Regions from separate parts of the Homo sapiens genome. Here all the other regions are linked to region 1. Evidence: fine-mapped expression QTL. A gene starts in region 1. Each other region holds a variant in brackets. All regions are shown on one strand. Distances are from middle to middle.

Evidence for each region. PIP is the estimated chance that this variant, and not a neighbour inherited with it, causes the effect.
Region 2: its variant is fine-mapped to the expression of RBM47 in monocytes after LPS (Quach 2016, PIP 0.95).
Region 3: its variant is fine-mapped to the expression of RBM47 in whole blood (TOPMed, PIP above 0.99).
Region 4: its variant is fine-mapped to the expression of RBM47 in whole blood (TOPMed, PIP above 0.99).
Region 5: its variant is fine-mapped to the expression of RBM47 in whole blood (INTERVAL, PIP above 0.99).

Annotation. Positions count from the first base shown.
Region 1 is chr4:40,626,965-40,633,074 of GRCh38, forward strand. RBM47 (RNA binding motif protein 47) reads right to left here and starts at 2,900. Exons shown (of 7, transcript NM_001098634.2): 1 at 2,432-2,900. RefSeq lists enhancers at 1,757-2,633, 2,634-3,511, 2,694-2,763.
Region 2 is chr4:40,595,951-40,602,060 of GRCh38, forward strand. The region is part of intron 1 of RBM47 (RNA binding motif protein 47); the gene reads right to left. Among named protein-coding and RNA genes, the nearest start is that of RBM47, 31 kb to the right of the region's middle. The variant T/C (reference allele first, on the strand shown) is at 2,938.
Region 3 is chr4:40,423,247-40,429,356 of GRCh38, forward strand. RBM47 (RNA binding motif protein 47) reads right to left here. Exons shown (of 7, transcript NM_001098634.2): 7 at 34-2,897. The coding sequence ends at 2,658. It overlaps RBM47-AS1 (RBM47 antisense RNA 1), which reads left to right and starts at 2,887. Exons shown (of 2, transcript NR_199039.1): 1 at 2,887-2,936; 2 at 3,542-4,336. RefSeq lists an enhancer at 2,176-3,375. The variant G/C (reference allele first, on the strand shown) is at 2,727.
Region 4 is chr4:40,571,593-40,577,702 of GRCh38, forward strand. The region is part of intron 1 of RBM47 (RNA binding motif protein 47); the gene reads right to left. Among named protein-coding and RNA genes, the nearest start is that of RBM47, 55 kb to the right of the region's middle. RefSeq lists enhancers at 5,547-5,716, 5,737-5,936. The variant G/A (reference allele first, on the strand shown) is at 2,480.
Region 5 is chr4:40,552,930-40,559,039 of GRCh38, forward strand. All of the region lies in intron 1 of RBM47 (RNA binding motif protein 47), which reads right to left. Among named protein-coding and RNA genes, the nearest start is that of MIR4802, 54 kb to the left of the region's middle. The variant G/A (reference allele first, on the strand shown) is at 3,219.

The sequences.
Region 1 (6,110 bases):
ACCCAGGTCATCTCTGCATTGCTATTATTGAAAATCTTTATCCAGTTGCTCTTTGAAGCCACTACTTGGAGCAGTAATGTTGGGACCAACACACACCTTTTATGATATTAAACCAGAAAATCAGCATCATCATTAAGACACAGAGACTGTTCCCAAGAGGGAAAGAAAATATATCTCCTAATCAGGCCAGTAGCTGAAACACTGCAATATAACCTGTAGCTTGGAATCACGGTGACAAGCACTTAAAGCTGCATTTAATGTCTTCATTGTAACTTCATCAAAGTTTGGCACACAAATTCTACCTTTATTCTAAGCATACCCTTTTTCTAAGTCTCATGAATCCCAAACTTAAACCCTCTTCAGAGTTTTTTTTCCCCAGAATTATGTATCTTCTGGGATTACCTAATCACAGTTTCACTTGAGCCTGGGTCCAATTTTAAGAAAATCTCCCTCCCTTCACGCTTATATCCACTCCCCTGACCTTTTCTGAAAAATCAAGAGACTTAAGATGTGGAGGCGGAAACTTACTGAAATAGCCAAATGCTTTTCTATAGCAATGAAAGCTCAGTCATTTGGGACATGATTTAATCTTGAGCTTCAGAGCAGAATTTGAAAAGCAAATTAAATCCTTTTGTAAGAAAATAATTTCATCTTAACCCAATCTTTTAAAAAATCATTACCTAGAACAGTAAACCAAATAGTCTAATATGAATGTTCTTATCATGTGAGGAAAAAAATGAGTAGTCTTTAACACTAGTTAGAGCAAGTCTATAGAACACGTGTCCAGAAGCATGTAGTTCCCTTGCTTTCTGTCTTTATTTCATCCTCAGTATCACTACTGCTTTGGGCAGAATTCTTTCAAAATTTAATTTAAAGCAGCACAGTGGGGGAATCAAAAATAAATATGTTGACTATTAAAAATATAGAGATTGGTAAAAAAAATGATGATGATGAATTCTCAATCCTACAAACTTCTGTAAACGCAAAAACCAAGAGGAAGATAATAAATCTTTAATAATTGATTGATATTCAGAATATCTTGATCTAATTAATTTAAAGCATGGCCTACCTAGCCAGGTAAAGGACGGCACAGCTAGGCTTATTTCTTCATTTGACACATACTGAAAGTTAATAATGAAGCTAGGTGCTTGGGAAATTTCTGAGACCCCATCCTTCCAGCATGCAATAATTAAGTCAAAGAGGCCAACAGTGTGTATATCAGAACAAGGTGAAGGGTAAAGCAGACCAGAAAAAAATATTAAAAACCAAACCATCTCCTCCTTTCTTTTTTTCCTTCTGTTTTCCTTTCAGACTGGGTTGATTTTAGTTCCCTCCAAGACTTCAAGTCATTGATCTAACAAAGATCATTGTTTAAATTAATAGCAACACAAACTCCCACAAAGTGATCTCTTCTTATGCTCTAGGTTGAGTACTTTGGTTTATCTAGAGGTTGTGTGTTACGCCGCTGACCACCTTTCACCTTTTAGAATCGGCACCTGCAATTCTCAAATGCTCTGGATCTAATTGCCAACCTTTTGAGCTCAAAACTTCGGCAACTCCTTCATGTTGGGTTGTCAACCCTTTGCTTTCCCTCCCCTGAGAAATTCGTATGACCTTGCCTTAAAACTTTTAAAGAATACATTTTAAAATCTATATTCCTGCTAAAGAAAACAGTGAGTCATTAAAATACCACCAGATAAAAAAAAAAGGTTTGATTTTTAGTTCAGGTCGGTAATGGCCTGTAAGTACCTTGAAGATGGTATCTTCCTATCACTTATGCCTTGGGACAGTACCCAAGAGTGGCTGAACTTTTACCTAATTAAAAAATGAGTCATTTATTTGAAAAATTCCACTTCCATTTATTTTATCTGATTTCTTAAATATCCGGTCAACTGCTAATTTGTCAGATGTCATAATTCGTCAGTCCTACCCTTTTCTACAGGCTGAATTTTTAATTTGAAACAACTACACCTCTACCGAGTGTTACTTTCAGACGTAAATTACTGCAGGAAGACCCCCCTCTGCCTTGGTTAACACTTAAATGAGATGCCTCCTGTCCAGGACGCTTCCTCAGTCTCACTGTAATAATCTGAGTCTAAAGTCACCTGTGCTTCTGGGCGGTCCAATCATGTATTTTCAAGAGTGAAAAAAAAAAATCAGTTTCTTTTATGGGAAAAGATTCATCACTACAGGAAACACGATGGGACTGACTGTATATGATTATCTGCCTTCCCAGAGGTTGACCCTTTTAAAACCGTTTTATAAACCCTTTATTTCCCACTAAATATACCAAGAGACAGAAGATGAGTGATAGCATGAGGGATAAGAGCTAAAGAGAGAAGAATAAGAAAAAAATATACACTTCAAAAATTGGGACCCAAATGTAAGATTAAGGGACAATAGTTAGAAGGACTACCAAAAACCACCTTACCTTTCCTTGTTAAGTTTTTGGAGCCGCCCACTTCAGAAATTAACACCATTCACAGCCCAGGAGCAACTTAACACAGCTAGGAAGTCACCTACAACATCTTCTCGTCCGCCTTCTTTTTAATGTAAAACCAAAATAAGGAGTGTCCAGCGACTCCCCACCGCGCCGCTTAAAGCAACAGAGCGTTTTAGGCTTAACTCCCAGGCTCTGGGAATTCCAGTGGGTCAGAATTGCTTAACCTTGGAGACTTGCAGAGAGAAAGTCTCCAGGAGGACCGCTCCCCAAACCCTGGTTTCTCTCTATCCCAAGCTGCACATTCCACAGTGGAAAGCGGGAGCGGCGACCCGAAGGCAGCGAAGTTCTCTCGGGCTCAGCTCCCGAGGCCGGGAGCGCGCGGCGGTTCCACCCGCAGAGCGGCGCCGCGTCCCGGCTGCGTGGGGCGCTGCGCACGGGAGCGCTCAGCGTCTAGTCTGCGGGCCCTTCCCGGTTCCCTCCCTCTCTCCTCCCGCCGCCCGCCCCCTGCCGAGGCCATCCGCCTCACAGTAGCAAGGTTGTCTCTCGTCTACTCCCTTCCCTTAAACTCACCAAACCAGATTTTTACTCCCAACACCGGCAACTTCCCGTAAATCTGCCCTGAAATTTTATCCTGCTGGCTGAGCCTCCCCTGGCTAAAGGCCAGTGCCACATTCCTGTTGTTTTTTAGGAGCGCAGATACCTTTGCTGAAGGTTCAAAGAAAATCGGCCTTGATGGCAGAGATTGGGGGACTTGACCAGACGGACTTCTCTCCCCGCCCCAAAAGTCACATGCCTTTCAGACACCCAGAAGTGGCACCTGCTCCACCTGGGGGCATCTGTCCGAGTCAGACGCTCGGCCCCCTTCGGGCTGCTCCGAGAAACCCAGCCAGAACCACGTTGGAGAAATTAGGAACCTGCTGCTGAATTTCAAGCCGATCGGAACCGCCCCGCTCCCCTTCTTCCCCCCATAAACAAGTCGCTGGACGAGGTGGGATCTCTGCGACCCCCGCGTGCCCGGGGAGAGCTCCCGGGGCGAGCTCCCGGGGCGTCCTTACCTGGGGCCGAGCATGGCTTGGCCGCGCGCAGGCAGGAGCGTCACGCGGACGGGGCCCTGACCTTTGCCGGGGCCTTCGCAGCAGGGCCTGGGGCCTGGGCGCTGCTCGTTCAGAAGTGGCTCATTTTAGTGCGCTCTGACCTAGAGTTACGGAGGGTTTCTAGAAAGGGAACAAAAAAACACTGCATTTAGAAACAGCAGCCAAGCCCTCGCTTCACCTTGCCTGCTCTCTGGGGAGTTGGCTCGAACCCCCACCCCATCCCAATTCCCAAGAAACCCAGATGTCCGCAATCCGCGCCCCACCCCCTCCGCCTTACCTGTTTATACAAGAGTTAAGGAGCCTCCCGCATTTCAGTGGAGCGCTAAGCCTGTTTGTAGGCGCGGAATGGGCCAACAGGAATCGAATTCTGTGACTAAACAAACTAGAAGAGGAAGCAGGCACCACCAGGAACCTAAAACAGAGTTGTGATTTCGGGTTGCAGTGTCATTCAGCTGAGGGGAAAGAAAAAAATACCGGGCTACTTTAGTGAAAGAATGTTCCAAAAATGGTTCTTTGCTGGTTGAGTTAACACATGCAAAGAGCTTAGAACGGTGCCTAGCACACAGTGTTAGCTGCCGTTATTGTTGTTGTTATTCTTCTTATTATTATTTACATTATGGCTTTTTTCTGAAGAAGAGTGTGTGGTCAGAGTTAGACATGGGCTGTAGCACCAGCATTGCCACTCACCAGCTGTGAGGCCATGAGCAAGATATTTAATCTCTCCCAGCCTCAGTTTCTGGAAGATTCTAACGATGGGATTTTTACAAACAGTTTATATTCATTGCTGACAGTCTTGAATACAATGGGAAATAAAGTCCCTGTAAAGGGTAGCCAACTGAATTTCATCTCACTTAAAAGTTACAAGATTGACAACAGAAATGGAGATAAATTTGCCTGCATTCCATGAAGCTCACTAACGGGAAGGAAATTCAGGGCCCAGCAATCACCCATCTGCTATGCTTAATTCTCATTTGTATTTTGGCACTTGACCTGGTGTCTTACCCTGGGATAGTTACTTATCCCAGACTGGGCCGGACAAATAATGACCCTTGCCGTTTGAAAAGCAGTATGAAAGAGAGGGAAATGATTTTGAAACTCCTCATAAATATTAAAAAGTGATTATTGAAGGCTAAAATGTTATCAGTGCCTCCACCCTTTATCCTCCATTTAACTTCACATTTAAAGAAAGAAATCATAATCCCTTTCCATTAGTGAGGCCCTTTCTACTTTATGGAGCACTTTCACCCTTCTTACTTTATGTGATCCTTACAAAATGATCCTATGAGCTATTTTGTCCCCATTTTGCAGATGAAGACACTGAGATCACACAGGTTAAGTGTAAGTCCAAGGTGGTGAGGCCAGGACTGGTTCTCAGTTCTAGTTAATTTTTTTTTAAGTTGAAAAATCAAACTGGATTTATTAAAATATATATAAATAACCCTCATTTTTCTTTATTTCATCAGTATTGGAAAGTTAAGTGAAAATTAATTAAAAAGTAGTAGTCCTAAGAGAGAGAAACAAAGGCTGAAGGGGTATCAAGAAAACCATAAATTTAAAAAGCAGCATTTGCCACCTTTGGGAAAAATGATTCCTTAAAACCAGCAAAGCATTCTGGAACATTTTAAATCCTTCTGATCTTTTATCTTCTCATGAGGCAAAATTTAACCCAGACAAATTCAACATTTCCTGTGTTTTAGGTTCATTCTTTGTCGATACCAGCCAGCATGTACTGTGAACAGCAGGCAGTGGGAACTCTCTTAGCTAAGTTCCCTCACCAGACCTAAGGGTTGATGCTGCCAGGCACAAACAACGGCTCCACCCCCTTAAGACAACTAAAAAACCCAGCTCCATATTAGCCTGAAATTTTCTTTTCTTTTCCAGAAGTATCTGGATTATGGCCTCAAAAAAGGCTCGCTGTCACAGACTGTCTGAGCTGAAGGATTCTAGAGGGGACATTCTCGCTGGGCACGGTGGCTCACGCCTGTAATCCCCACACTTTGGGAGGTCGAGGCAGGCAGATAACCTGAGGTCAGGAGTTCCAGATGAGCCTGGCCAACGTGGCGAAACCCCGTCTCTACTAAAAATACAAAAATTGGCTGGGCATGGTGGCAGGCACCTGTAATTCTAGCCACTCGGGAGGCTGAGGCGGGAGAATGGCTTGAACCCGGGAGGTGAAGTTTGCAGGGAGCCGAGATCGCGCCACTGCACTCCGGCCTGGGCGAAAGAGCAAGACTCCGTCTCAAAAAAAAAAATAAACACATAAATAAATTTAAAAAATGATAAAAATAAAAGAAATTTGAAAGTGTGGAGGTCAGTGACTCCAGGTGAACTGGAACTGGAGTCAGGGAAAACTCCTGCTTGAGGAGGCTCAGGTTCCACTTCAGGAAGTGAGTCCTCATCTCAAAGAGGGTCAGTTACCCTTTTTCAGATGTTGCCTGCTCCTTCTTCAGTTTTGCCCACTGACACCTATGAAATGGGTATATCCTTTCTTTCTTTTTTTGCACTCCATATCCGCTGGAGAAATGGGTATAATTCTTGTTCCTATTTCTCACTGCCCTCCCCGGGAACATGAC
Region 2 (6,110 bases), 31 kb before region 1:
TTGCTGGTCTTCATGTATCTATCTGCAGCCAGTGTGGACGCAGCCTCTCTGCACGCAGTCAGTGTTTGATAAGCTAGCATTCTAAGCCACAGAAGACAAGGAAAGCTGCAAGGGAATGCAATGTGCCTAATCAGAGACATGGGCAAAGCATGCTGCTAAGATGAGAACTTTCAGGAGCAGGGACGTGACTATCCTTGGAGCTGTTCTTTCTGTCACAGGACAAATGGAATTTGCTGGTTTTGTCGACATGAGGTGGGAAAAGGAAGAGCAAGAGGAAAGAAGCTTAAAGCAGAGGAATAAGATAACATCATTCCGTGGATAGAGGTGGGAGGAGAAAGGTGGATCATTCCTGATCTCCTGAGGCAAGAGAAAAAGACAGGAGAATTCTTAGGTTTAAGGGGGGGAAGAGGTCTTTTATTCACTTCCTGGTGCAGGCACATGTACCTATATATTGCTCTTTCTGTAGCCAGATTATTTACTCAGTGTAGTGTGTGTGCCTATGCTACACAAGAGGTTAGCAACCATTTTGTAAAGGGTCAGACGGGAAAAATTTTAGGCTTTTTGAGCCATACAGTTTGAGTGGCTACTACTCAAATCCGCCATGTTGAGCAAAACAGTCATAAATAGGTCTTTACACTGTGTTCCAATAACATTGTATTTATGGACAATGAAATTTGACTTTCATCTAATGTCCCAAGTGGCCCAAAAGATTAATCTTCTTTTAATCTTCCTCCCTAACCATCAAGAATGCAAAGCCCCACGCCTTGTGTATGAGTACACACCATATGTAGCACAGGAAAAAGGACGTCCTTGGGAAGGATAATCACTGCATTCAGGGGAGTGGCCACCCCTGAGAAGAGAGAGAGAGAATCAAGTTGAGGGGCACGAGGGGCTTCAGTTATCTCTCCAGTGGTTTATTCCTCATGTTGGTCCCAGATACAGAGGTGTTTGTTGTACCTTTCAGTAGGTCAGAAATAAAACAAATTTTTAAATATTAAGTATTTAAGTATTTAAAGTTTTAATTTATCGGCCGGGCGCGATGGCTCACGCCTGTAATCCCAGCACTTTAGGAGGCCGAGGCAGGCAGATCATGAGGTCAGGAGATTGACACCATCCTGGCTAACATGGTGAAACCCTATCTCTACTAAAAACACAAAAAATTAGCTGGCCGTGGTGGCACGCGCCTGTAGTCCCGGCTACTTGGGAGACTGAGGCAGGAGAATCACTTGAACCCAGGAGGCGGAGGTTGCAGTGAGCCGAGATCGTGCCACTGCACTCCAGCCTGGGTGACAGAGCGAGATTCCATCTCAAAAAAAAAAATAGTTTTAGTTTATCAAAATACTTCAATAAATAAATATTTATAGGCTGAGGGCAGTGGCTCACACCTGTAATCCCAACACTTTGGGAGGCTGAGGGGAGCGGATCACTTGAGATCAGGAGTGTGAGACCAGCCTGGCCAACATGGCAAAACCCCGTCTCTACTAAAAATACAAAAATTAGCCAGGCCTGTAATCCCAGCTACTCTGGAGGCTGAGGCAGGAGAATGGCTTGAACCCAGGAGGCGGAGGTTGCAGTGAGGCGAGATCACGCCACTGCACTCCAGCCTGGGTGACAGAGAAAGACTCCATCTCAAATAAATAAATGAATAAATATTTATATATTCATATAGGTATTAAATATGTATTCATTTAAATGAATACTTTTTGAAATAATTTGATAAACTGGAAATTTTAAATAAAACAAAACAATGCACATAAATGTGCCCAAGTTCATTACCATTTTTTTGCAGAAATGATTATGTTAGTAAAAGGCATTAAATAAATAAGCAAACAAACAATAGCACCTGCCCATGAAAAGGCTCTTATTTCAGTTTTTGAATCACCATGAAAAATTTTCCTGAGCATCTAGCCAGAAGGAGCAGACACTGGCAAAAATGTATTCACCTCTCTAATCTTAAGTCTCTTGATTTCATTTCTGCATTAAAGCATTTTCTGTTTTCTAAAACAAGATCTTTTGGTCAATTTAGCATACCAACTGCTAGCCTAACTCCACAAAACGGAATCTTTTTAAGGCAGGGAGCTATATTAAGTCTCCAACATTCACTTTCTGAAAATTCTTTAGTGTATTATTGCATAGCAGAGTAGTGTGACAAGGATCAAAAGATTAGAAACAATTTCAATTAACTCCTTCTACTAATATACAGAGGACTGACCACTGAATTTTGCCGCAATGTCTAATGGGAAATAAAGTGCGCACACAGGAGATTTACCATTGACCCCAATCACAGAACTTTATTTATTTATTTATTTATTTTGAGATGGGGTCTCAGTCTGTCACCCAGGCTGAAGTGCAGTTGTGTGATCTCAGCTCACTGCAACCTCCACCTACCAGGCTCAAGCCATCCTCCCACCACAGCCTCCTGAGTAGCTGGGACCACAGGTGCACACCACCATGCCCAGCTAGTCTTTGTATTGTTTTGTAGAGAGAGGGTTTTGCCATGTTGCCCAGGCTGGTCTCAAACTTTCCTGAGCTTAAGCAATCTGCCCACCTCAGGCTCCCAAAGTGCTGGGATTACAGGCATGAGCCACTGCGCCCGGCCCCAATCATAGAACTTTAAAATGATGCTTTGTCTCAAAAAAAAAGAAGAGACAAATAAATAAATAGGTGAATTTTTAAAAATAAAATGCTGCTTTAAAGAATAAAAACATCGCAAATGCTTTGCAGGAATGAAAGTCTGAAAATGATGTAATATAGTAAGAGTACAAATTAAGCTATTTTTAAAAAATCCTTTGATTTAGGGTTTCTACATTCTATATTCTATAGTGTCCATCTGTCCTCTGCTCATATGTGTTTAAGCCATAAATGAATTATCAGAAAGTCTTTTATTCTTGTAAAACCAAAAAAAAAAAAAAAAAAGAGTTGGGGAGGAGGAATCTG[T/C]CGTAATTTATTCATCATCCTTGACTTCAATAAATAATTAGTACTGGTAAACATTATTCTATAATTATTAGAAAGAGAAGTCCCTGGCCAGGCATAGTGGCTCATACCTGTAATCCCAGCACTTGAGGAGGCCAAGGTGGGCAGATCACTTGAGGTCAGGAGTTCAAGACCAGCCCGGCCAACATGATGAAGCCCCAACTCTACTAAAAGCAAATACAAAATTAGCTAGGTGTGGTGGCACACCCCTGTAATCCCAGCTACATAGGAGGTTGAGGCAAGAGAATGGCTTGAACCCAGGAGGCGGAGGTTGCAGTGGGCCGAGATCACACCACTGGACTCCAGCCTGGGCGATAGAACAAGACTCCGTCTCAAAAAAAAAAAAAAAGAAAGAGAAGTCCCTAAAGTTCAAATGCCACAAAATAGAGAAAATAAGTTCAGCAGGATTTTCAAATCCAAATAGGTACTTACACTTACCACCCCCAACCCAGGAAAATGGAAACCCATTTAGGTTGATCCTTAGTGTGGCAGATTTAAAATGTCTGTAAACTCTCTGACACTCCTCTCATTGAGAAGTGGGATCCACTCTTTCTCCACTTGAACCTGAGTGGGCTCTGTGCCTGCTTCAACCCAGAAGTGACACTCTTCCAGCTTCCAAACCCAGGCCTGGTAGCTTTGCTGTCCTATCTCTTGGGACACTCACGCTTGGGACACTTTGAAATGTAAGAAGTCCAACCACCCAGCAGGAGAGGCCTTATGGAGAGGCCCTGAAACGTTCCTGCCAAGGTGTCAGGCATGTGAGCAAAGCCATCTTAAATCATCAAGCCTTCAGATGAGAATACAGAAATGAATTAGAAAAAAAAAAAAAATCCTCAAGCCAGACTAGCCACAAGTTGAATACTACCAACTAACCCCAGGTAATGCACATGTAGCAGAATCTCCCAGCTAAGCTCTGCCCAAATCTGGTCCAAATCATGAGATAGTAGGCACTCAGTGAATATAGGGTGGTTTGTTGTACATCAAGAGATAACTGAGCCCTTGGCATCATTCTAGAAACTACACACTAATATACCCCTACACTTTAAATTTTTGGATGAGTGCCTTTCCCACGCCAAAGGAGGAATTTTTTTTTTCTTTTCCTGAGACAAGGCCTCACTCTGTTGCCCAGGCTGGAGTCCACTGGCGCCATCATAGCTCACTGCGGCCTTGACCTCCTGGGCTCAAAGTGATCCTCCCACCTCAGCCTCCTGAGCAGCTGGGACTACAGCCATAATACCTGGCTAATTTTTTTATGAATTTTTTTTTTTTTGTAGAGACAGGGTGTTGCTGTGGTGACCAGGCTGGTCTGGAATGTGTGGTCTCAAACAATCCTCCTGTCTCTGCCTCCAAAAGTGTTGGCGTTACAGGTATAAGCCACCACAACTGGCCTAAAGAAGGGATCTTAATTGATACTATTCTTGAAAGCAGAGGCCGGGCGCGGTGGCTCAAGCCTGTAATCCCAGCACTTTGGGAGGCCAAGGCGGGCGGATCACGAGGTCAGGAGATTGAGACCATGCTGGCTAACGTGGTGAAACCCCGTCTCTACTAAAAATACAAAAAATTAGCCGGGTGTGGTGGCGGGCGCCTGTAGTCCCAGCTACTCGGGAGGCTGAGGCAGGAGAATGGCGTGAACCCGGGAGGCGGAGCTTGCAGTGAGCGGAGATCGCTCCACTGCACTCCAGCCTGGGCGACAGAGCGAGGCTCCGTCTCAAAAAAAAAGAAAAGCAAGCAGAAGTAGGCTTTATAGATGAAAGTTACAAGAAAGAAGATTTCAAGGCCGGACGCAGTGGCTCATGCTCACGCCTGTAATCCCAGCACTTTGGGAGGCCAAGGCGGGCTGATCACCTGAGGTCGGGAGTTCAAGACCAGCCTGACCAACATGGAGAAACCCGTCTCTACTGAAAATACAAAATTAGCCAGGCGTGGTGCCAGGCACCTGTAATCTCAGCTACTCAGGAGGCTGAGGGAGGAGAATCGCTTGAACCCGGGAGGCGGAGTTTGCGGTAAGCCAAGATCGCGCCACTGCACTCTAGCCTAGGCAACAAGAGTGAAACTCCGTCTCAAAAAAAAAAAAAAAAAGAAAGAAGAACATAAAAAAGATCTTCCTAGTAAGCCTTTCCAGTCACAGCCTCAAGTGCCTCACGGAAATGATGATGTAACCATCACCGTAAGAATTCAAGGCCAGGACGGAAGCAATGAAGAAGCATAGCAACTGAACCCTCCAAATACCAAATCAGGAAGACCTGAATCTGGATCTGCTTTGCTATAATTAGCTGTGTGTTTTAGGGCAAGTTGCTTAGCCTTTCTGAGTCTACTTGCTCAACTGTAAAATAGAGACACTGGTAACAGCAATCTCAGAGAACTATAAATGAGTGCCTGGCCCAAGGGAAGTTCTTGGTGCACATGCTTGTCAGATCATGACTATCGCTAATGTTGGAGAGGCATTTCTACATTGGATGGTGTGTCAAACCAGAAAGCCCCGCTGGCCCTGTCCAGATAAAAACATGCTGGATCATTCCATGACCACTCATGGAAAGTTCATGTGTGCAGAAAACTACCTGAACGCAACGGAAAAGATTTCAATGACATCTCAATCAAGTCAATGGCATTCTCTTTTTGTTAGCTTGAGGTTAATTTGTACTTAAGAGCCTTAATTATTTAAGCAGAAAAGCAGCAAAAGAACAATGGATTTAAACTGGCATGCCAAAAAAGCTTCGCTTGCTTGTTTGTTGGCTTGACGTAATTAGTTACAAGGCTTCCATTGTGGATTTATCATGTATACTGTTTGCCACTCTTCCCGCACTGGCCTCCTTCCTCTGCTCTCTGTTCCTGGAAACTACGAGTCCAACTGCCAACCCCAGGTGGCCCCAAGTTGTGGTGAAAAGAACAGGCCTTAAAGGAAATTGTTTCAGTTCAGCCACTTACTAGCCCTTCAATTTAGGGGAAATTAAGAAATCTCTCTGGGTCGGGCGTGGTGGCTCACGCCTGTAACCCCAGCACTTTGGGAGGCCAATGTGGGTGGAGAGCTTGAGGTTAGGAGTTTGAAACCAGCCTGGCCAACATGGTGAAACTCTGTCTCTACTAAAAATAGAAAAATTAGCCAAGTGTGGTGGTCGGCACCTGTAATCCCAGCTACT
Region 3 (6,110 bases), 200 kb before region 1:
AAAGAAAACACAATTTAAAATAAGGTCTTGCGATTGCTTTAAAGAAAGCTTTATTTACTACATACATCCTAAGAATGTACTGTAAATGGAGCAAGATCTAAATAAAAGCTTTTCAAATATAAAGCAGCTAAAGTTAACTAAACCACTAGCAATGTTTGAAAACAGAACTCTAAAACTTTTTTTTTACATTTATATAGTTTGTTCTTAACACTAAAAAAAAAAAAAGTTCACATTTCAAGTTATAAACTTACCTCAGTAGTGTACATGAAATGGTTTTGAAACAATAGGAACAGATAAGTCCCAGATAGGAGGCTCACTGATACTTAATTGGCCATGTCACCAATGTTTGTTTTTAAGGGAGTTTGGTGGTTGCCATGTTATCATTTTTTTTTATTCTTTCTTTCTTTTTCTTTCTTTCTTTCTTTCTTTCTTTCTTTCTTTCTTTCTTTCTTTCTTTCTTTCTTTCTTTTCTTTCTTTTCTTTCTTCCTCTTCTTCTTCTTTTTTGCAAATAATTTACAGGCATATGTAAAATACAGTAAGAATACTGGGTCATAGTTTCATCCAGTGAAACTCTGTGACAATCCTTCACTAGAAGGAGAGTACTTTTTTCACACAGTCAGGGGATGAGGATCTGATCCGAATTACATTTTGTCGAGTCACTCATTCCCACAGATTTGAGTTTGAATGCAGCTTGTGGGGTACATCATCAGGAACATTGCACAATTATTTTATGTCATTTAAAAGAATGATGGAAAGGAATGTTAGCGGTGCTTAAAGGCCTCAGTAGGCACTCAATAATTTTATAGAATAGTTAAATAAATATTGCTTACACATAAAAACTCATCTCATTTCAAGATGAGGGGGAAAAAGGCATTTGGGAATCTCTTAATTTAAAACAAAACAAAAGTACTTGCTAAGGGCATGATCCTCTTATGAATCCACAAGAATTCAGCCATCAACAAAAATCCCGTGAGTGGAAAATTGTATGGATCTCTAACATGACATAAAAACGCAACTGCGTTTTACTTGCTACCTTATTGCACACCTCACTTCCTTGATTGAGCCTTTAAAAAACAATTCCAAGTTGATATTTTTTTTTAAAAAGTAGATGACAATCTTAACATTTTACTGTATTTTACATTCACTCTGCTAAACAAAAGCCTTTAAACAGGCACAAAACACTGCAACAATACATTAACTTCCTAATAAAACAAACCTTTTTAATAACATTGAAATAAAATGGTTTCATTTTGCATTAAACTACATACCATGAACTTCTCCAACATAAAAGGACTAAAAACAAGCATTAGAAGATATTTACAAACTATCTTTAAACTTCTACAGGTCTCTCCTCCTCCTCCTGGATGTGCACACCCCAATCCAGTTCACCCATCAAGTGCACAGCAAAGGAAGAGAGGCCCATTTAATAAACATAATGTTTCCAACACCCTTGAGGACCATGGACAGTTTTGCAAGAAACATGGTAAGGCAACTAGAAGCATAACTTTCTGCTGAAAAGAGTCTCTGGGGGTCTTGTCTACGATAACATACATTCTTTGTCCCTACAAACTCATACTTCAAAAATGAATAAAAGCATTAGAAATGGCATTAAAGTTTTACATTGGGCAATTAAATAGCTATGCAAAGGTGTCTTATGCAACTCGATTAAAACCTTGTGCTTACTCTGCTACTGAAAATAGCACACGTAGAAGACAATACTTCCCCAACCAAACAAAAAAAAAAACAAAAAACAACGAAACAACAAACCCCAACAAAAACCCAGGAAGAAGTATAAAAGCCACCAGCTCCTCTATCAGAGCTACTTATCAGTCCTAGGCTTGCCAAACATTGCGGTGGGATTGGGAATCTGGGGAGGAGGGGACAGGGTGAGAGATGTGGGAGTGGGGGCATGTTTAAGGCTAAGGCACATGGAGAATGAGCCCCGGCTAACGGTGGCAAAGGAGAGCTTTCCAGTGTTTGGACTCAGAAGTGCGGCAAGTCTTTTCAATGTTGGCTTAAGGAGAGATCCAGTGTTTAATTTCTTTTAAAAAATAGTACCGCCATGATGATACATGGTAACACCATCAACCCTTAATGCCAGCAGAAATACAGAGGTTTTACTCATTTTAAAATTGCACTTTCCAGTATAACCTTTAAAATAATGCTTTATGTAGTATTTTTAAGCACTACTGTTTGTATCTTTAAATATTGTATATATTTTTCAAAATAGTTCCCTAGCTCCTCAAGTGTGCTTTTTTAATATATAGTTGATATATTATTGAAGGTACTACAAAATAGAAATCTCTGGAGTGCAGAAGTTAAGAAAATAACCTTCATACTGAAAATATATCCTTAAAAAAACAACAACAAAAACCTCTATACAAATGTAGTACAGCATACAAATTTTTAAAAGATGGAATGAAGGCACGAACCATTGCAAGTCTTTTGGAAATGTATGAACGTAGGCATGCTAAGTTGAAAATAGTCTTAAAAAACTAGTGAAAACTTCATGTATATAAAATAATTCAGAAATAAATCTGCTAACATTCTTCACTTTCAGGTTGCATGTGTGAATCCAACATGTTCCTTCTTCATAAATAGTCAAGCGTTCCTTCAGTGGTGTTTGTGTGGTCTGTCTTCGTGCTGGTCACCAGCCTCAGTATGTCTGGTAGACGTCGGGGATGGGGACCTGAATGGCAGCAGCAGGGAAGGCCTGAGGTATGTA[G/C]CCTGCGTATCCTCCATACATGGCGGCCGCGGCTGCCGCGTTCTTCTGTAGTGTGGCGATCGTGGCTGTAGCTGGAGCAGCAAATGGCACGTAACTGGCCCCGTAGATCCCGGCAGTAGGAATTCTCTGAACGTTTGGAGCCACCGTGTATACTGGAGTTATTGGGCGGCCCTGAGGAGAAGAGACAAAAAGGAGCCTTCCTGAACACGTGTATGTACCTATCATCCATTCATTCAACAAGCCTCTCCCAGAAGACGGGAATACAAAGACACAAAAGCAAGGGAGAGAAAGGCAGAGGGGCGGGCAAACAGCAATTATTGTAAGCAAGTGGGAGAAGAGCCACTGAAGAGGTAAGGTGGAGCTGCATCCTCAAACTCAGTGATGCCACCTTGTGAAAGTGAGAGGCCTGGAAGGCTGAGGGAAAGGTGAAATACAGTTGCCCCTCAGTATCCTCACAGGTGATTGGCTCTAGGACCTCCGTGGATACCAAAATCCTCAGATGCTCGAGTCCCTGAGAGAAAATGGCGTATTTGCATTTAACCTATGCACATCCTCCTGTATACTGTAAAAAAATTTTTTTTCATAGAGACAAGGTCTCACTATGTTGCCCAGGGCTGGTCTTGAACTCCTGGCCTCAAGCAATCCTCCTGTCTCAGCCTCCCAAAGTCTTGGGACCCATACACTTTAAAAATAATCTCTAGATCACTTATAATACCTAATATGATGCAAATGTTATGTAAATAGTTGTTATATCGTATTTTGACATTTGTATTTTTTTATTGTTGTATTGTTATTTTTTATTGTCTTTATTCAAGCCACGGTTGGTTGAATCCAGATGCAGAAACTGCGGATAAGGAGGACCTTCTCTGTACTGTATTCCGGAATCTTCTACTTACCATTCCACTCAATCAGTCTATGCCCCAGAGTGAGCTAGAGAAGGCAGCGGAGAATCTACCATCCACACAATTGATTTCACAGTAATTAAAAATCAGTGTTTTTCCTTAAACATGGCCTCTAGATACATGCCAGCTGCCTCAACTCATACTTAACTGATGGAATATGATCTGTCTCAGAGACAGAGAGAGGAACAGACTGTGTCAACTTAGAGAAACCAAATATACTGATCTCCAAAGGGACAGCTTCTTAAGCTGTGACCTTAAAAAATTGTGACCATACACAATTTTCAGCCAATGTGATGGTTTCCATCACCTCCCACCTAAGAGATGACACCATTAATGTATACAAATTGTTGTAGAAGCTTAGAGAAAGAACCAACTAATGGGGAAGTTGGAGAAAATGTCTCAGCAGCGGGGATATTCGAGCTGAGTTTTGAAGGATAAAGAGCAGTTTCCAAATGAGGAAGAAGTGGGCAAGGACAAGCTAAGTAAAGTTGCCTGAACTGTTGACGGCCACCACTGGCTCTAGAAAAGCCCCTGCTACTTCCTTCTGTCTACTTGAAAGTGCAACATAAGATGTTTTCAGAACAAACAGGAGTATGAATGGGAAGACTGTGGTTCAGTATTTCCCAAAGTGTTTGCCATGGAACTAGTTCTGTGAGATGCTTCATTGAAAAGAGATTCTGAATAAAATAAAACATTCATTTAACAAAATATTTGGTGCACCTCATGAGCCATAGAATGCCTGGTAGTAAATGCTGGTATGGTCTCCCTATATGTTAATACATCTTCAAAATAAACAATTCAGCATATGTGAAATGGTGAATTAAAATAATTATTTCTTCCTGGATTTTTATAAAGGAATTAGCTCTAATTTCTGTTACAAAATTTGCAAATCAGAGTTCCAAAATTGTGCTCAAAGGAACTTAGGAACTTCTAGCCTAAGATTACTTTTTAAAACTATAATCAAATAGTAATTATAATTTATAATAATTTTAATTTATAATTATAATGATAATTATAACAATTAATAACTCAGAGGCTGGGTGAGGTGGCTCATGCCTGTAATCCTAGCACTTTGGGAGGTTGAGGTAGGAGGATGGCTTGAGGCCAGGAGTTCGAGACCAGCCTGGGCAACATGGCGAAACCTTGTCTCTGCAAAAGATACAAAACTTAGCCAGCCATGGCGGTGCGTACTCCTGTAGTTCCAGCTACTCAAGAGGCTGAGGTGCAAGGATCACCTGAGCCTGGGAATTCAAAGCTGCAGTGAGCTGGGATCATACCACTGCACTCCAGCCTGGGCAATGGAAGTGAGACCTTGTCTCAAACAAAACAAAACAAAACAAAACAAAACAAAACAAAACAAACCCCCAAACTCAGGCACTATTCTAAGTGCCTTATTTGTATGACAGTATTGAATCATCACAGCCACCAGTAGAGTTGGTACTATGATTATATGGAGTTGTGTGGAAGTGTTAAATGACCTGCACAAAGTGACACAGCTTTTAAGCAATGCAATGTGTGACTCTGGAGCCTGCACTTTTAGCCTTACGTTAACTTGCTTCTTACAACCCTAAACAATGAGTGTCTCATCAGTGACATTTTACAACCAGGGAGAGGAGCTCCAGAACTGGAAAGACTGTGGTTCACAGCAAGACACAAGTCACCTTTTCCACATGTGTGGACGTAGGTTTAATAACCAGTGCAAAAAGGGAGAGGAAATGGCAGGGAAGGCAACATGTGAGAGAGACCTTTCCATGTGCTACAGGACGGCCCAACACCTGGGTTCAGGCTGCCCACTCCAACACCAAGTTTTGCACATAGACATGCACTGGCTTACGGCCTGGAATCAAGAGTAGGTCCCCAAACCCATGGCTTCTCTTTTCATTCATGTGATGTCCCTTTTATGATAGCATTCACCACACTATAAGGACAAAGCATGCAGAGATCAGGCATCTGATCTCCCAATCCCAATTCTACTCCCGGCCAGCAATTCTGTCTCCTTGCTGGGCCTTAATTTTCTTATCTGTAAAATGAGAATATATGGGGAAGCACTTGGTTTTGCTTTCCATGGTTTCAGTTACCCGCGGTCAACTGAAGTCTGAAAATATTAAACTGAAAATTTCAGAAATGAATAACTCATAAGTTTTAAATTGTGCACCCTTCTGAGTAGCTCCATGAAATCTCATGTCATCCCTCTCCATCCTGCCCGGGACACCAATCATCCCTTTGTCCAGGAAAACGACACTGTCTGTGCTCCATGCCCATGTCACTTAATAGCCATCTGGGTTATCAGATTGACCGTCAAGGAACCCTTATTTTACTTAATATCAGCCCCAAAGTGCAAGAGTAGTAATGCTGGCAATTTGGATATGCCAACGAGGAGCACTAAAGGCCTTCCTGTAAATGAAAAGGGGAAAGTTCTCTACTTAATAAGGAAAGAAAAAAAATCCTATGCTGAGGTTGCTAAGAACTACAGTAAGAAAGA
Region 4 (6,110 bases), 55 kb before region 1:
ATTCAACTACATAAAATTTTTTTTAAAAAATACAAACCAGGTGGGAGGAGGGTGCGGGATAAAAGACTACACTTTGGATACAGTGGGCACTGCTCGGGTGATGGGTGTACCCAAATCTGAGAAATCACCACTAAAGAACTTATCTGGCTGGACACGGTGGCTCACGCCTGTAATCCTAGTACTTTGGGAGGCTGAGGCAGGCGGTCACTTGAGGTCAGGAGTTAGAGAACAGCCTGGCCAATATGGTGAAACCCCATCTCTACTAAAAATACAAAAAAAAATTAGCCAGGCGTGGTGGTCCATGCCTGTAATCCCAGCTACTTAGGAAGCTGAGGCAGGAGAATTGCTTGAACTCGGGAGGCGGAGGTTGCACTGAGCCGAGATTGTACCACTGTACTCCAGCCTGGGCAACAGAGCGAGACTCCATCTCAAAAAGAAAAAAAAAAAGAATTTATCCATGCAACTAAACACCACCTGTTCCTCAAAAACTACTGGAAAAAAAAAAAAAAACCCACCAGGTGTGGCTCACCCTGTAATCCCAGCACTTTGGGAGGCCGAGGCGGGTGGATAACCTGAGGTCAGGGGTTCGAAACCAGCCTTGACCAACCTGGTGAAACCCCCTCTCTACTAAAATACAAAAATTAGCTGGACCTCGTGGCATCCGCCTGTAATCCTTGCCACTAGGGAGACTGAGGTAGGAGAATTGCTTGAAGCCAGGAGGCGGAGGTTGCGCCACTGCACTCCAGCCTGGGTGACAGAGCGAGACTCCATCTCAAAAAAAAAAAGGCAATGTGGAAGCTCTCAATGTACTGTTATTGAGAAATCTTCAAGATATATTGTTAAGTGAAGAAAAACAAGCTGCACCTAACATTCTACTTTTTGTGGAAAAGGAGAGGAATAGAAGCTCTAAGTGTATTTACTTGCATAGCATTAAAAAATTCCCTAAAGACAGATTAGAAACTAAGAACAGTTGGTACCCACATGTAGTTTATTTGAACAAAACAACAACTTAATAATGAAAGTGGGCCGGCTGTGGTGGCTTATGCCTGTAATCCCAGCACTTTGGGAGACCGAGATGGGAGGATCACTTAAGACCAGCCTGGTCAACATAGTGAGACCTTATCTCTATTTTTTAAATTTAAATAATAAAAATTTTAAAAAATAATAATAATGAAAAAGTCTTCAACATTATGCATTCTTCAATTTTCCTGTGAGCCTCCTTGTTTATTCATTTGAAAGTACAATATATTAAAATTCACCACAAAATTGCAGAAGTGGGCCGGATGCGGTAACTCACACCTGGAATCACAACACTTTGGGAGGCCGAGGCGGGCGGATTACTTGAGGCCAGGAGTTCAAGACTAGCCTGGCCAAAATGGTGAAACCCTGTCTGCTAAAAATACAAAAATTAGCTGCTGGGTGTGGTGGTAGGTGCCTGTAATCCCAGCTAATTGGGAGGCTGAGACAGAAGAATTGCTTGAACCCAGGAGGCAGAGGTTGCAATGAGCCGACATTGCGCCATTATACTCCAGACTAGGTGACAGAGCAAGACTTCATCTCAAAAAAAAAAAAAAAAAAAAAATTGTAGAAGTGTTTTCTATCCCTAGTTGAGAACTGAAGAAGAGAAATCTAACCAGAGAATTTGGTAAGCACATCTTATATGCATTTTTTAAAGACATTAATTCCAGTTATCCCTGGTACTGGGACTGCAGGTGATTTTAATTATCTCCTTTGTGTTCTGTGTTTCTCCAGGGCCACTGTTAATTTTATAATTAGCTTAAAATTTGTTCAAATAAAGTAAATATTATAAAGAGAAATTGTCTTCAGTAGTTAAGAAAAGGATGAAATTTTGAGTTTGAGGGTAACTAGGCTGGGCATAGTGGATTATGCCTGTAATCCCAGCACTTTGAGAGGCTGAGGCTGGTGGATCACTTGAGGTCAAGAGTTCGAGACCAGCCTGGCCAACATGGTGAAACCCCATCTCTACAAAAAATACAAAAATTAGCTGGGCATGGTAGCATGTGCCTGTAGTCCCAGCTACTCAGGATAATTGCCTGAACCCGGGAGGCAGAGGTTGGTGTAAGCCTAGATCATGCCACTAAACTCCAGCCTGGGGAAGAGACAGAGCAAGGCTCTGTCTAAAAAAAGAAAAGCAAGAAAGAAAGAGAGAGAGAGAGAAAGAAAGAAAGAAAGAGAGAGAGAGAGAAAGAAAGAAAAAGAAAGAAAGAAAGAAAGAAAGAAAGAGAAAGAAAGAAAGAAAAATAAACTTTGACTTTGAGGGTAATGAAAAATTGGAACAGTTTCCTAAGAAAGATAATCATAATTTCCATTTCTGTAAAACTTTATAAAATTGTATTAGACATCTTTGGTTTAAATTTTCATTTGTTAAAGGCTATGGTGGATCAGATGACCTTTTGCCACAAAGCTTTCATAGCAACCGAAGAGCAGTGTTTAGAATATTTTTCACTTAAATAATGAG[G/A]AAGAACAGGGCTGACTGCACGAGGTGGAAGAATCCAGATTGTGCAAATGGTCTTCCGTTCTGCAGCCTCTCTGCAGTTGTTGTGGGTTATTAGACTTCCGAGATCTAAATATTCTCCCAGAGTGTAGGAAACTCCTCCTAAAGTTTTACATAAAATATAATCTCATTATTTCAGAAATAGACTGGGTAAAACTAGTACCATGAGAAGAAACAAGCTTTTCAGTTAAGACCGAGTTTAATTCTGGTTTTTCTAAGAAATAAAGACTTTTATTTGTTTGATTCCAGAGAACCTCAGGGGACACCCGACTGAGACAAACTGAAAAGTTAGAAGAAAGAATTTCCAGATTCCAAAAATAATTCAACAGAATGACTCTTTTCAGAACGTTAGACAAACCTGTATTCTGTAGGTATGTTTTAGAATCTCATAGGTAATCACAAGATTATAGATGACAGGGAAGATGAAAAAGTCAAGGAAGCTATCAAAGTATTGGAAATGGGCTGGGTGTGGTGGCTCACGCCTGTAATCCCAGCACTTTGGGAAGCTGAGGTGGGCAGATCACCTGAGATCAGGAGTTCAAAACCAGCCTGGCCAACGTGGTGAAATCCCATCTCTACTAAAAATACAGAAATTAGCCAGGTGTGGTGGCATATGCCTGTAATCTCAGCTACTCGGGAGGCTGAGGCAGAAGAATCACTTGAACCCCGGAGGCAGAGGTTGCATTGAGCCAAGATCACACAACTGCACTCTAGCCTGGGCAACAGAGTGAGACTCTGTATCAAAGAAGAAAGAAAAAGCATCAGAATTGGCAAAACTGGAGGAAAAGAACAAAAAATGAAGAGAACATCAGATAGGTTACGAAGATAATCAGTTTGGGTCAATTCCCCTAAAACATGGGAGCTGCCATAGACCCCTCAAGGCAATAGTTTTCAATTGGGAACCATTTGGGTCCCCAAGAAGTTATCTGGCAACGCATGAAGACATTTTTGGTGGTGGGTGCTACTGGCTTCTAATAAGCACAGGCATACTGCTAAACATCCTATAATGCACAGGAAAACCCCTTAAAACAATCCAAAATATCAACTGTGCCAAGATTGAGAAACCCTACATTGAAGAATACTGGCCCTACAGAAACACTGAACAGACACTGTAATTCACAAAGGGAATGTTATTAATACAGCTACCTATAAAGAAATACCAAGGAAGCTGGGCGTGGTGGCTCACACCTATAATCCCAGCTTTTTGGCTGATTCAGGCGGATCACCTGAGGTCAGGAGTTCGAGACCAGCCTGATCAACATGGAGAAACCCGGTCTCTACTTAAAAATACAAAATTAGCCAGGAGTGGTGGCGGGCCCCTTTAATCCCAGCTACTCAGGAGGCTGAGGCAGGAAAGTCGCTTGAACCTGGGAGGCAGCGGTTGCGGTGAGTCGAGATCGTGCCACTGCACTCCAGCCTGGGCAACAAGAGCGAAACTCCATCTCAAAAAAAAAAAAAAAACTACCAAGGAATAGCTACCTATAAAGAAGTCTCCCCAAGTTAACTGAATACTTAAAATTTGAATACTTAATGGTTTTGTCCTTAATCCCCGTTGGACCACTTTGATAAGGGCTACTGTGTGTCTGAGTGACCAACCCATGCCAGTTTGCCCAGGACTGTCCTGGTTTTAGCACTGAAAGGACAAATGAAGCCATTCTGTCCGCCAAGAGTACAGTGATATTTGGTCATCTGGAATTTTCTCTCTTTTGAAGAGAAACCTCAGATTCCTTCATGGTTTCCTCTGTGCTTGTTCTCACACATTACCAAGCTCCTGAGGCCTGGCTCCAGCAGGGAGAGAAAGGGTCTGATCTCAGAGGTGCTCTCTGATCCAGAGGAAGCCCAGAAGAAATGGGGGCCTGCCAGTGCTGGTGGCCAGGAGGGCATTGTTAATAGCTCATCTGGTTCTGTCGCCACCCAAGGCAGGGTTCTCCTTTGGATCGGACACTGGGGAAGTGTTCCTTCCCTGCAGGCTCACATAGCTTGCTAAGAGGCATCTTTCCTCACCTCCTCCTGGGGCAGTGCCCCAGGCAATGGAATGCATTCCTTGAGAAAGGATCCCTTACATGCTTTCCCTTATCTTTCCCAGATTATGCCCTTTCTTCAGCCTATTTCTTTTTTTCTTTCTCTTTTCTGTTTTTTTTTTTTTTTTGGGGGGGGGCGGAGACAGGGTCTCCCCCTGTCACCCACAATCATATTTATGCCTGATCAATTTTTTAAAAAAATTTTTTTGTAGAGATGGGGTCTTGCTATGTCGCCCAGGCTGGTCTTGAACTCCTAGCCTGAGCAACATAGCAACAGCCACCATGCCTGGCCTCCAAGCCTATTTCTTACAAAGGTGAAACTTTCTAACTACTACCTAGCCCCTGTGATCAACTTACATAACATATATGAAAGCATTTTGGAAACTGTAAAATATCAGACAAACGTAACATACTAACATCACAATGAGAAATCATTTGTCATTTTTCTTTTTTAAAAGAGACAGGGTCTCACTCTATCGCCCAGGCTGGAGTGCAGTGGCATGATCATGGATGGCTCACTGCAGCCTCAAACTTCTGGCCTCAAGTGATCCTCTTGCCTGAGCCCCTCAGGGTGCTGGGATTACAGGTGCAAGCTCAGCTCATTTCTATTTTTGAAGTTAGCAACTGAGGGTTGTTTCACTTTCTAGATACTTTAAATTCCCGTGTGGCAGGCACTGTTGTAAACACTTTGCATGTGTTATCTCATATAATATTCACAGAAATCCTGATGATGATGATGATGATACCCATTTTATAGATGAAGAAACTGAGATAGGATGACATTAAATAACTTTCCCAGGGTCACAGAGCTGGTGGAGCTGAGTGATTAGATTCAGACAGGCTGGCTCCAAAGTCCATGCTGAATGCTACCTGTGACTCAAGCCAGGAGAAAAAAAGGAGTTGCTCAAATAAAGCGTCCCTGGCAGTAACGAATCATTAACTTTCAGCCCACTCCAAGGAATGGGTGGCCTGAGGGTCACGTGCTAAAGAGGAAACCCTGAGTGAGTCAATCATGAACACATGACTGTTCTTAGTTCCTTATAGGTTTGCTTCCTCAAATAGCCTTCCTGGAGTGCTGAGCCAAGAGATGGATTGGGACCAGTTTCAGTTCTGGGAAAGGGGCTGAACCCCATCTAGCCAATGCCTGCACCCACGCTTCAGCTCTGTGCATGCTGGTGGCCGAATCTAACACAGGCCACAGGGACTTCCTCAAACTGGGAAATGCCTGCTCATGTTGTCAAGAGTCCTCAGCAACAGCTTGTTTGCCGACTAAACAAGGCTGCCACCTCACACAGGCAGCCTCAGAAAGATCAGGGAGTTAATAGTTACATGAAGACAGCTCAGAGAACAGCTCAAGTGACAGTCCAGACAAATGCAGATCGTATAATGGGTACCTGGTTAGATTCTGTTTAAAAAAAAAAAAAAGGATGTTCCTCTCTGCTATTTATTCCCTGTTCCAATTTTTTTAAAAATCCTGTTTTCCCTTTCCTGATCCTCCCTTATGGTATCTCATACTTAAAAAAAAAAAAAGTCTGGGATAAGCTGATAGTCACAAAGAAACAGGAATGCAACAA
Region 5 (6,110 bases), 74 kb before region 1:
ATCTCCTCCAAGAAGTCTTCTCTGACAACTTTCTTTTCTTTTTTCTTTTTTTTTTTGAGACGGAGTCTCACGCTGTCACCCAGGCTGGAGTGCAGTGGCACGATCTTGGCTCACTACAACCTCCGCCTCCCGGGTTCAAGTGATTCTCCTGCCTCAGCCTCCCGAGTAGCCGGGACTACAGGCACGCGCCACCACGCCCCACCTCTGATTGCTTTTTTTTTTTTTTAATATGGAATACTTCATGAATTGATTATTCTTTTAAAAGAGTTCTCCAATCACCAACTGTATACTCTTTCTTCCTCTTCCCTATCTTTATTTCTCTTCTTTGCTCATATTATTATCTGAAATTGCATTATGTATTTTTTATTTTATTTTATTTTATTTTTGAGACAGAGTCTCACTCTGTCACCCAGGCTGGAGTGCAGTGGCGTGGTCTCGGCTCACTCCAACCTCAGCCTCCCAGGTTAAAGCAATTCTCCTGCCTCAGCCTCCCAAGTAGCTGGGATTACAGGCGCATGCCACTATGCATGGCTATTTTTTGTATTTTTAGTAAAGATGGCATTTCACCATGTTGCCAGGCAGGTCTTGAACTCCTGACCTCAGGTGATCTGCCCACCTTGGTTTCCCAAAGTGCTGGGATTACAGGTGTGAGCCACTACGCCCAGCCAATTATGTATTCATTTTTATCACTTTTCACTATCTATCTGCCCCACTAAAATGTGAGCTCCATGATAAGGGACTTTTTCTTCTTCACCAAGGCACTCCCAGCTCCTAACGCAGGGTCTAGCACTAGTCAATAGTCAATATTTGAGAAATAAAATATCCCCTGGTTGGAGAGATAATAAGCCCTTAATCAAACCTGTTCCAAGACTTTTACTATCAACAAGCTAAAAAGCCCATGTCCTTTACTTGAATTCAGAGTGCTGAACAGTGGTTGGCCAGCAACCTCTACTAAGAAGTTCTTTGCGATCAGAGACATTTGAAGGTAAAATAGGGCCTTCGTCGTAAGATGAGCCAGCCAGCCCTTTTGTCCTGAAACTGAGTACGCAAGTGCAGAGAGGTTACCTGGTTTCTCCAAGCTCACATAGAAATGGTGAACATCAGGAGACGCGGGACCACTTAAAGGATGCACAGTCCCGTATTCATCTCCGCAACCCCAGGACCCAGCACGGTGCCTGGTGCAAAGAATGCACTCAGTGGGATTGCGCCCAGGGAACGAATGCTCTCTAAGGCCTCATTCAACTGAACTGTACTTCCTCTCATTACTGTCCCAATGATAACTTCCTATCCGAGAACCATTTCCAGTCACTTGAGTCATGCGTCATTTACTTCCTGTCCTCTGTCCTTTTAAAGTGCAGTTTGACAACATACCAGGCACAACAGTAACATCTGGGGGCTGCTTTGCTTCTAACGTAAGTCAAATAGCCCAGCATGGAAAATACCTAGGAAAAAAGTGGGATATGCAAAGCAAACCTCAAAAAAAAAAAAAAAAAAAGACAAAAGCTGGTGGGCTGGCCACGGTGTCACAAATGAAGTCTCCAGTGGCTTCATCATAACAAGTAAGTTTACTTTATGAAAGCTCACACTTGCATGGTGCCTTCTGTTCTCAGCACTTTATATATATATGCTCTCATTGAATTCTTTCCAAGATGTACATCTCACCTGTAAGAGGCACTACAACTCTGAAAAACCAAGTAATTTTTAGAAATAATTCAGCATTCTTTCTGATTGCTCTAGAGGAAGAAAAAAAATTTTAAAGAAATAATTTAGCAGCAAAATCCGACGCTCTAGTTCCTTCCTCCCTTCCCCCCATCTCTCTCTCCTTTCTTTCCCTCCCTCCCTCCCTTTCTTCCTTTTTTTTTTAACGAATCTCCCAGGCTTAAGGGCAGTGGCGTGATCTCGGCTTGCTGCAACCTCCACCTCCAGGGTTCAAGTGATTCTCCTGCCTCAGCTTCCTGAGTAGCTGGGACTGCAGGCACGCACCACAACACTCAGCTAATTTTTGGTTTTTTGTTTTGTTTTTGAGACGTAGTTTCCCTCTTGTTGCCCAGGCTGCAGTGCAATGGCGCGATCTCGGCTCACTGCAACCTCCGCCTCCCAGGTTCAAGCGGTTCTCCTGCCTCAGCCTTCCCAGTAGCTGGGATTACAAGCGCCCGCCACCATGCCCAGTTAATTTTTTGTATTTTTACTAGAGATGGGGTTTCACTATGTTGGCCAGGCTGGCCTCGAACTCCTGACCTCAGGCAATCCACCCGCCTCAGACTCCCAAAGGGATTACAGGCGTGAGCCACCACACCCGGCTTAATTTTTGTATTTTTAATAGAGACGGGATTTTGCCATGTTGCCCAGCTGGTCTCAAACTCCTGTCCTCAAGTAATCCGTCCATCTCAGCCTCCAAAAGTGCTGGGATTACAGGTGTGAGTCACCGCACCCAGCCCCTGACTTTCTAGTTTCTAATGAGACTCTCTACAGCCTTCGTTTCTTGCAGCATGTCTGAGTGTCCATTCGCTCTGCTGAAGAAATAGTGATGGGTGTGATCAAGGAATACTGCCTGAGATGAGTGGTATTAAGCAACACAGGGTACGTGCAACATATTATCTTTCTAAAATCTGAAATGTTCTGGCTTCTAAAACACATCTGACCCAATGGGTTTCGACAAGGATTTCTCACTTATATTAATGCAGAGAAGTAACTTGCCCACATCACACACCTAGTAACTGGCAACGCTAGGACTGCAATCAGGCAGCCTAATTCTGCAGGCCATGCCTGCGGCCGCCACATCATCCTGCCTCTCTCATGAATGATGGGAATGTGATCTGAAAGTCAGTGATTCCTCAACTGTTTTTCTGATGTGGGTCCCAGAAATAGAATTCGGAAAGATGAACAGCCAAGGTGGCCTTGTGCTGTCACCTGTGAAGGCAATTTGGACCAGCGATGACACCAGGTGAGTTAGGGCACAGAACAGCTGACTTCCCAGAAGTCATGGCCACTTTCGGGAAAATGGCATCCAGAGGCTTGGAGATCAAAACTTTTGCCTCCTTGAACATCTTCCCCAGGAGCCTCTGGGAAACACTGAAGCCAACCTGCTAAAGACCTGAAAAGATCTTCTTTTTTTTTTTTTTTTGAGACAGAGTCTGGCTCTGTCGCGCAGGCTGGAGTGCGGTGGCGTGATCTTGGCTCACTGCAACCTCTGCCTCCTGGGTTCAAGCAGTTCTCAC[G/A]CCTCAGCCTCCTGAGTAGCTGGGATTACAGGCATGCACCACCGCGTCTGGCTTATTTTTGTATTTTTAGTAGAGACGGGGTTTCACCATGTTGGCCAGACTGTTCTCCATCTCCTGACCTCAGGTGATCTGCCCGCCTCAGCCTCCCAAAGTGCTGGGATTACAGGCTGAGCCACTGCACCCAGCCTAATACATTCTTTTTAAGATTACACTATGAGGTTAAGTAATCTTCATTACTTAATGAAGATTAAGGTGCAGTAGGTCATGCCTGTAATCCCAGCACTTTGGGAGGCCAAGGTAGGAGGATCACGATCACACCACTGCACTCCAGATTGGGTGACAAAGTGAGACTCTGTCTCAAAAATAAAGTAATTGCAGTTTTTGCTATTACTTTTAATGGCAAAAACCGCAATTACTTTTGCACCAAACTAATACATTCTTTTTAAGATTATACTATGAGGGCCAGACACAGTGGCTCATGCCTATAATACTAGCACTTTGGGAGACTGAGGCGGGAGGATCACTTGAGCTCAGGAGTTCCAGACCAGCCTGGGCAATATGGCGAAATCTTGTCTCTATAAAAAATAAAAAAATTCACCGAGTATGGTGGTGCACGCCTGTAATCCCAGCTACTTGGGAGACTGAGGTGGGTGAATCACCTGAGCCCAGGATGCAAAGGTTGCAGTGAGCTGAGTTTGCGCCACGGCACTCCAGCCTGGGCAACAGAGAGAAACCTTGTCTCAAAAAAATATATATATATACATTTACATGATGAGGTGGGATGAAGAGCTGCAGGTGGGTTGTGAGCCTGAGAATGTGTGTTGGGGGGCACGTTGGGGGGAGTTGTGCACATATGAAAGTGTACGCTCATTAAAAATTGATATTTCCCTAATGTCCAGAATGCAGAGCAATTATAATTTATGCTTCAACTTTTCTGTCCCCTAAATTCATTATTGGTGGAAGTAAAAGATGCTGATCATTTGGGCCCACAGTGTGCTTACTTGGCTAAGTCCTTGGGGTTACCTCCATTCTTCAGATCTCAGTTCAAATGTCAATTCCTCAGGGAAGCCTTCCCCAATGCCCAAAGTAGACTGTCCCACCCTTTAATTCTCACCCACATCTTGGTGTACACTTTCCCTTTGAGCAGTCATCGTGGGTTCTAATTAAATACTCCTGGCTTTCTTTGTTCACTGACTGGCTGTTCCTACTAGACTGTAATTTCCTTGAGGACAGTACTATATCTATATGCTCATCTGTGTTCCCAGCATGAAGCATAGCACCTGCCACATCCTAGTAGCTCCATAAATATTTGTTGAGTTGGCTGGGCGCAGTGGCTCATGCCTGTAATCCCAGCGCTTTGGGAGTCTGAGGTGGGCGGATCAACTGAGGTCAGGAGTTCAAGACCAGCCTGGCCAACATGGTGAAACTCCGTCTCTACCAAAAATCCAAAAATTAGCTGGGCATGGTGGTGGGTGCCAGAAATCCCAGCTACTTGGGATGCTGAAGCAGGAGAATCGCTTGAACCCAGGAGGCGGAGGTTGCAGTGAGCCAAGGTCGCACCATTGCACTCCAGCCTGGGCAACAAGAGCGAAACCCCACCTTAAAAAAAAAAATTGTTGAATGAATGAATGCATGAGTATAGAATTTTACAATAAAAAATCAGAGGTTCCTCAGCAGACAAACACAAGGCCTTCTCCCACCTCTGAGTTGTGAAATTGTTATTGCCTAGGCAATCCTATTTGGCAATTTATCATATGTTGCTCAGTGACCTGTTATCTTTATAGTTGTGGATTGTTGCTTAATTTTCTTATTCTTTTTTAATGTGTACTCTGGTTAGATCTTGTCTTCCCAAGCAGATTATAAGCACATCTCAGTGTAAATTACATCGTCCTGAATTCCTCAAAGCTCCCATAGTGGAGTTTTGCACCTAATCTTTTTACACTGTTGCTTCATTTTGTGCTCAAAACAGATATTATTATTCTCATTTTTTGCAGATGGAGAAAACTGAAGCTCAGAGAAATAAGTGACTCACAGTTTGTATAAGTTGATATTTGAAATTTGGGATTTCTCCTCTTAAATTACAGATATCTCATTAACACAGGCTCAGAAATCATTTTTTCTCCCTGTGAACTTTTGGTCTGTCATTTGCTTTAACTTAAACTATATCGAATTCTGTGACTTTTAACATTTAGACATTCATTTACTCAATCATTTATTGAATGAGTAAATGTCTAAAAAATATGTACTGAGGCTGGGCATGGTGGCTCACGCCTGTAATCCCAGCACTTCAGGAGGCCGAGGCAGGTGGATCACTTAAGGTCAGGAGTTCAAGACCAGCCTGGCCAACATGGTGAAACCCTGTCTCTATTAAAACTACAAAAAAAAAAAAAAAAAAATGGGCCAGACATGGTGGCTCATGCTTGTAATCCCAGCACTTTGGGAGGCTGAGGTTGGCAAATAACCTGAGGTCAGGAGTTCAAGACTAGCCTGGCCAACATGGTGAAACCCCATCTCTACTAAAAATACAAAAATTAGCCAGGTGTGGTGGTGGACACCTGTAGTTCCAGCTAATTGGGAGGCTGAGGCAGGAGAATTGCTTGAACTCGGGAGGCAGAGGTTGTAGTGGGCCGAGATCGTGCCACAGCACTCCAGCCTGGTCGACAGAGTCAAACTCTGTCTAAAAAAAAAAAAAAAAAATTAGCCGGGCGTGGTGGCAGGCGCCTGTAATCCCAGTTACTTGGGAGACTGAGGTAGAAGAATCACTTGAACCCAGGAGGCGGAGGTAGAAGTGAGCCAAGATTTCGCCACTGCACTCCAGCCTGGGTGACAGAGTGAGACTCCGTCTCAAAAAAGAAATGTGTACTAAGCCCCTCCTATGTTCCAAGCACTGTG